Linked DNA regions of Homo sapiens. The protein of the gene in region 1 purifies or fractionates together with the protein of each later gene. This does not show direct contact. Each region holds a gene or a part of one and is shown on either strand. Other genes may lie near its edges.

What was found.
Region 2: the proteins of PCYT1A (region 1) and CACNB1 purify together in Homo sapiens (co-immunoprecipitation; one large-scale study listed by IntAct). This does not show direct contact.

Annotation. Positions count from the first base shown.
Region 1 is NC_000003.12:196,246,128-196,249,942, forward strand, and holds part of PCYT1A (choline-phosphate cytidylyltransferase A), read right to left. Parts: intron 2,197-3,815; coding exon 2,080-2,196; intron 1,392-2,079; coding exon 1,240-1,391; intron 1-1,239. UniProt on the Homo sapiens protein: Catalyzes the key rate-limiting step in the CDP-choline pathway for phosphatidylcholine biosynthesis.
Region 2 is NC_000017.11:39,177,047-39,180,861, forward strand, and holds part of CACNB1 (voltage-dependent L-type calcium channel subunit beta-1), read right to left. Parts: intron 1,034-3,815; coding exon 938-1,033; intron 490-937; coding exon 304-489; coding exon of another isoform or gene 199-303; exon of another isoform or gene 1-198. UniProt on the Homo sapiens protein: Regulatory subunit of L-type calcium channels. Regulates the activity of L-type calcium channels that contain CACNA1A as pore-forming subunit.

The DNA.
Region 1 (3,815 bases):
GATGTAGAAAAGCCAGAGAATTATAAAAGGTCTGTCCTAATCCTCAATAGTTTTAATAAATATCCCCTCTTCAGGCCTACCCACGTATTGCTTTAGAAGCACTTTGGCTGCCTTCATTCTTTCTGCCTCACTGAACAATTTACCTACAACATTCCACGCGCCCCTGTAGAGAACTGACAACATGCTTGCTATTTCCTCAGGCTTGGGGGCCTCTAACCTGGCCTAATCAATCCTTCTCATCTTTTGTACCCACCTTTTGCAGGAAACCTGTGGCTTTTTTTTTTTTAAAGTAGAGACAGGGTCTCGGTATGTTGCCCAGGCTGGTCTTGAGCTCCTGGGCTCAAGCGATCCTCCCACCTTGGCCTCCCAAAGTGCTTGGATTACAGGCGTGAGCCACTGCACCTGGCTGAAATCTGTTACTTTAATGTGGGAGAATTAAAAGGAGGTAAGGGGTTGATAATAACTTACTGAGAAACAGTGAGAAATATCCTTGATTTCTGATTCCACCCAATTTCTAGCATAAGATCAAAGCCCTGAAATGAAACTTAAGCCAAGAAAAGTCTATGTTAATCCGTCTTATTTCCTGGTAATGTGACCGTCTTCAGAGTTCACCTGGGGCTATGGATATTCTCAGGAGACTGGCATGTTCTAAGGGTAGATGTGCCTATGGTGTGGGGGGAAGGTCTCGTAACTGGTGAGTTCAGTTCCCAGCCCTGCCAGTGGTGTAACTTGTGGCGAGTTCAGTTCCCAGCCCTGCCAGTGGTGTAATTTGTGGCGAGTTCAGTTCCCAGCCCTGCCAGTGGTGTAACTTGTGGCGAGTTCAGTTCCCAGCCCTGCCAGTGGTGTAACTTGTGGCGAGTTCAGTTCCCAGCCCTGCCAGTGGTGTAACTTGTGGCGAGTTCAGTTCCCAGCCCTGCCAATGGTGTAACTTGGAGCAGGTTATTTGGTTTCTCTAGCCCTTGTTACTCATATGTAAAGCGGAAATGACAAACACACCACAGGATTGCTGTGGGCAGAAAATGGAATAGAATGGATGTAAAAGTGCTTGCAAACCATCCAGCCCCATATAAACGTCAGGGGTGACTGTTATCACTAGTAATATCACTGTCATCTCCTACGAAACTTACATAAGAGGTAGAAGTAAAACACGGCTAGTGGAAAACCAGCCTACGTGCCAGCAGCTTTGAGAGTTGAGGGGATTCTGAAACAAGGAATGGGAATATGTGTCCAGTTTCTTACCCGGTGTTCGGCCAGGAACTCGGGTGTCAGCGTCCAGGGCGCATTCCTCACCACCTCATCCACGTAGCGGCAGTGCTGGACTGCGTCATAGCGCTCATTCTCGTTCATCACCGTGAAGCCTTTGAAGTTGTGTGTGAGCTCATCACTGCAAACTGGTTCACCACATCATAAATTGTGTGTTGGAGTCCTCTTTGCTTAGCACCTCCTCAGCCACCGACCTCTCCCATCTTCTCCCACTGCTTAGGACTGCAACCATCTTCCCCAACTGGAAAAAAGTCTTCTAAAGGTGGTTGAACCTGGGTGATAACGCTTTTCCTAATGCAGCGTATACCTTCAGGAGCAACACTCACTAAACAGTATGTTCATACTTTGGAGAAGGGACAGTACAACAGGTGACCAAGATCTTTGACTCTGAAATAAACCTGCTGTGCGTGTCTGCATCAATTAAGTCCTTAAACATGTTTTCCTGTTTTATTCACACTGGACTGGACCACCTAACATTTCCTTGGCAGACTTTTGTACTCCAGTTAATTCAAAATGATAAACTGAAATCTAAAGCAAATGTTTTAAAGTGGACAACGGAAGTCACGGCTGCTCCTGTGACCACAGAAACTCAGCTACAAGCAGTGAATAAATGCCAGATGGCACAGTCGAGGAGCTTGAAGCTCCTCTCTCCAGGTTTAGTTTGCTGGTACCCATATACTTCATGTGTGTTAGAGAGGCTGTACTACATCCTTCATTTAAAAATGGAAACAAGAGCCAGTGTACTCAGCTGAGAAAGACAGACTGTACTATCATCTTTTTCTGCACAGCACCTGAAGTCACCAAATGTTTTCTTACCTCCCACAATGAGGTACGTATTAGGGAAAAGGTTCTTCGCTTGCATCAGAGCTCGGGCGTGACCAGAGTGAAATAAGTCAAATATTCCATCGGCATAAACTCTCACAGGTCGCTCACCTAAATCCAAATGAAAGAATTGATCACAAAAATACCTTTTTTTTTGTCATTTTTATTTTTATTTTTGAGGCCGAGTCTCACTCTGTCACCCAGGCTGGAGTGCAGTGGCGTGATCTCGGCTCACTGCAACTTCCGCCTCCTGGGTTCAAGTGATTCTCCTGCCTCAGCCTCCCAAGCAGCTGGGATTACAGGTGCATGTCATCACGCCTGCCTAATTTTTGTGTTTTTAGTAGAGATGGGGTTTTTCCTTGTTGGCCAGGCTGGTCTCGAATTCCTGGTCTCAAATGACCCGCCAGCCTCAGCCTCCCAAAGTGCTGGGATTACAGGTGTGAACCACCATGCCAAGCCACAAAAATACATTGATTCGATATCTTGTACTTGGCAAATGGAACTGGCTCTGTGTGACAGTTCCATGACTGTATACTCCTTTCTTTTTTTTTATTTTTTTCTTGAGACGGAATCTCGCTCCATCACCCAGACTGGAGTGCAGTGGCACGATCTCGGCTCACTACAACCTGCAACTCCCGGATTCAAGCGACTCTCCTGCCTCCGCCTCCTGAGTAGCTGGAACTACAGGCGCCCACCACCAAGCCCAGCTAATTTTTTGTATTATTTTTTAGTAGAGATGGGGTTTCACAGTGTTAGACAGGATGGTCTCGATCTCCTGACCTCGTGATCCACCCGCCTAAGCCTCCCAAAGTGCTGGGATTACAGGTGTGAGCAACCGCGCCCGGCCCAACTGCATACTCCTTTCTTTAGGTGTTCTCTGGGTATTCACCCTGATTTTAGGGGTAGGTTGGGTTATGAAAAATGACTATAAAGACCTTTTCATTTTTTTTTTGAGACAGGGTCTCACTCTGTCATCCAGCCTGGAGTGCACTGATGTGGTCACAGCTCACGGCAGCCTTGACCTCCTGGGCTCAAGTGATCCTCCCATCTCAGCCTCCCAAGTAGATGGGACCACAGATGGACACCACCATGCCCAGCTAATTTTTTTTTTTTTTTTTTGTAGAGACCATGTTGCCCAGGCTGGTCTCGAACTCCTGGACTCAAGCAATCCCACCTTGGCCTCCCAAAATGCTGGGATTCCAGGTGTGAGCCACCATGCTCAGCCTATAAAGAGATTTTTGACATCATCATCTGCACTAACTGCCTCTGTTAGCCTGGTTGTACCAAACTTTTCAGGCACAACAAATAACAGAGAACTGTCAACTTAGAAGCCAGGAAATGATTTCCCGGGGAACAAGACTAATTCCAAAGTGAAATAAACATTAAAAACAGAATCAGCATAATGGTCCATCATGCTTTAAATAATAAATCTAAGGAGTCCATGTAACTTATTCCCTTTCTGTGAATAAAGGAAGAGCTATTTTACTGCAGCAGAAACTGACAGGAGCATTTACATCATTTGGGAAAGATAGGTCAAAGTGTCATCAGATACACTATGCTGAGGTTGAGGATCAGATACACCATGCCGAGGCTGAGGACCAGATACACTATGCTGAGGCTGAGGACCAGATACACTATGCTGAGGCTGAGGACCAGATACACTATGCTGAGGCTGAGGACCAGATACACTATGCTGAGGCTGAGGACCAGATACACTATACTGAGGCTGA
Region 2 (3,815 bases), on another chromosome or scaffold:
GCGGGCAGCAGATGCGCTCCTATGGCACCAGGCCCAGGAAGACAGCACCAGAAGCCCCAGACCCATCAAAAACCACAGACACCAGAAGCTGCCGCTCATCTTATTTTTTTACAAAATAAAGCTCTTCCCTTCCTCCTCCATGTTCCCTGCACTCCAGTTCCGACCCCAGAGCAGGAGGGAAGACGGGCAGGGCGCCCACTACATGGCATGTTCCTGCTCCTGGGGCACCACACTGCCCCGCTGTGAGGACTCCAGCCCGCCCCAGAAGCCGAGGTTTCTCCTGAGCGAGGTGAGCACCTGTACCTGGAGGTTGGAGACAGGGGCAGGGCTGGCAGCCAGGGCTGCGGTAGCCATGGTGCGGTTCAGCAGCGGATTGGGTGGCGTGCTGCTGGGCGGGTGTGTGGCCTTCCAATAGGCTTCCAAGTACTCCGCCAGATGCTCGCAGGCATCCTCCAATTGGTTCTCATCCAGGATGATGTCAAACATTTCCTGTGAAGGCGGGGTTAGGGGGCAGGGCTGGGATGAGTGGGGCATGGCCAAGGGGGTTGAGGGTGTGGCCTGGGTGCAGTGGGTAGAGTCAAGGGATTGAAGGACAAGGTTAAAAAGAGGCCTCTGGATGTAGAAGGGAAGGAGAGCTCTCAGATCTACAGATTGGCAGAACTGCAAGAAGTTTTGGCACTCAGTCCAACTCCCTCATTCTAGAGATAAGGCAACCAAGGCTGGGAGACAGGGCTTGACTCTCCACGCAGAAGGGTGCTTCTGGGGCTTGAACCCAGTCTTTGACTGACGGGACCTGCGCTCTTCCCAGAAGACCAGTCTGCACCCACAGGCCTGACCCAGGTGTTCCTGGTCACCCTGTCTCTCATGTAGGCCAGAGGAAACCAGGACAACCCAAATGTTCTCCCTCCATTCCCTTCCCTGGGATCTAGGCACTCACAGGGGGGCACTGTGCCAGCTTTTCCGAGGCCGCTATTTGGACATTGAGGTGTTTGGACTGAGACTTTCCTCGGGACTTGATGAGCCTTTGAAGTACCTGGTTTGGGGAGAGAGAAAAGGAAGAGGAGCTAGAGGGACTCAGGCAATGCACCCAGTCAGAGAGGCGGGTCCTGGTTGGATCAGCATGGAGAGCCAGTGTCAAGACCCTTGAATGCTCCATAACTCTCAGCCCTGGGCACCTCTGCAGAAAGGACCTCAGCAGCCCTGTGTCTACCCTATGCAAAGCTCAGGCTCTCTCCTGGTGTTATGCCAGCCTTCCTTAGGGGCTATATGAAGGGCAGTGATTCTCCTTCTCAACTTCTCTAACATTGTTTGTAGGCCCGCCCACTCTCCTTTTTTTTTGTTTTTTTTTTTTTAAATTTTAGAGACTGGTTCTCGCTCTGTCACCCAGGCTGAAGTGCAGTGGTGTGAACATAGTTCACCTCTACCCTGGGCTCAAGCGAGCCCCCAGCCTAGCCTCCTCAGTAACTAGGGCTACAGGCACGTGCCATCATACCCCACTAATTTTTTTTAATTTTTTTGTAGAAACAGGGTCTTATTATGTTGCCCAGGCTGGTCTGAAACTCCTGGCCTCAAGTGATCCACTTGCCTCAGCCTCTCAAAGTGCTGGGATTATAGGCGTGAGTCACTGAGCCCAGCCACACCCTCTATATTAACAACGGCAACAACAACAGTCTTCCTTTATGGGGCACTTGCTACATACCAGCATTGTTCTGTGCTTTTCACATGATCAATTGAGTCCTGACAACAATCCTGTTAGATAGCTGCTATTATCATTCTCATCTCAACAACAAGAACCATAATTATAATAATGCAAAACCGGAAACTAATCATGAGGAACAATCACACAAACGCACACTGAGGGACAGACAGTCTACAGAATAGCTGTCCTGTACTCTGCCTAAATGTCAGTCTCTGGAAAATTCAAGAAAGGCTGAGGAAGCCTTCCAGATTAAAGAAAACTATACTGGCTGGGTGCGGTGGGTCACACCTGTAATCCCAGCACTTTGGGAGGCCAAGGCGGGCAGATCTTGAAGTCAGGAGATCGAGACCATCCTGGCTAACATGGTGAAACCCCATCTCTACTAAAAATACAAAACATTAGCCGGATGTGGTGGTAGGCGCCTGTAGTCTCAGCTACTCAGGAGGCTGGGGCAGAAGAATGGAGGCAGAGCTTGCAGTAAGCCGAGATGGTGCCACTGCACTCCAGCTTGGACAACAGAGCAAGACTCCGTCTCAAAAAAAAAAAAAAAAAAAAAAAGAGGGCCGGGTGCAGTGGCTCATGCCTATAATCCCAGCACTTTGGGAGGCCAAGGTGGGTGGATCACGAGGTCAGGAGATCAAGACCATCCTGGCCAACATAGTGAAACCCCGTCTCTACTAAAAAAATTAGCCGGGCATGGTGGCAGGTGCCTGTAGACCCAGCTACTTGGGAGGCTGAGGCAGGAGAACGGCGTGAACCTGGGAGGCGGAGCTTGCAGTGAGCTGAGATCGCCACTGCACTCCAACCTGAGCGACAGAGTGAGACTCTGTCTCAAAAAAAAAAAAAAGAAAGAAAGAAAGAAAGAAAACTAGGCCGGGCGCAGTGGCTCACACCTGTAATCCCAGTACTTTGGGAGGCTGAGGCGGGTGGATCACCTGAGGCCAGGAGTTCAAGACCAGCCTGGCCATCATGGTGAAACCCTGTCTTTATTAAAAAATAATAATAATACAAAAATTAGCTTGGCGTGGTAGCACATGCCTGTAGTCCCAGCTACTCACGAGGCTGAGGCATGAAAATCACTTGAACTTGGGAGGCAGAGGTTGAGGTGAGCTGACATCATGCCACTGCACTCCAGCCTGGGCGACAGAACAAGACTCTGTCTAAAAAACAACAGGCAACAAGTGATCCTGGGTTGGTTCCTGGATTGGGGGAAATGTTGCTATGAAGGGCATTCTATACCGGCACAGTGGCTCACGCCTGTAATCCCTACACTTTGGGAGGCAGGGGTGGTGGTGGATCACCTGAGGTCAGGAGTTCGAGACCAGCCAGGCCAACATGGCAAAACCCCGTCTCTACTGAAAATACAAAAATTAACTGGGTATGGTGGCAGGCGCCTGTAATCCCAGATACTCAGGAGGCTGAGGCAGAACTGCTTGAACTAGGGAGGCAGAGGCTGCAGTCAGCCAAGATCGCATCACTGCACTCCAGCCTGGGCAGCCAGAGTGAGACCCTAGCTCAAAAAAAAAAAAAACCAAATATGGACTATATTTTAGAAATAATTCTTGAATTTTACAATTGCATCATGGTTGTGTAAGATAATGATGTTGTTCTTAAGAAACACAATATAGGCCAGGCATGGTGGCTCACGCCTATAATCCCAGCACTTTGGGAGGCTGAGACAGGTGGATCTTTTGAGGTCGGGAGTTCGAGACCAGCCTGGCCAACATGGTGAAACTCTGTCTCTACTAAAAATATAAAAATTAGCCAGGTGTGGTGGTGGGCGCCTGTAATACCAGCTACTTGGGAGGCTGAGGCAGGAGAATCACTTGAACCTGGGAGGCAGAGATTGCAGTGAGCCAATATTGTACCACTGCACTCCAGCCTGGGTGACAGAGCGAGACTTCGTCCCCCCTCAAAAAAAAAAAGAGAGAAAGAAAGATAAAAGTAAATGTTTCAAAATTTGTGAATCTGAAAAAAATTAGACTGTACACTTAATTTATTTTTTATTTTTTAATAGAGACAGGGTCTTGCCATGTTGCCCAGTCTGGTCTCCAACTCCTGAGCTCAAGTGATCCACCTGCCTCAGCCTCCCAAAGTGCTGGGATTACAGGTGTGA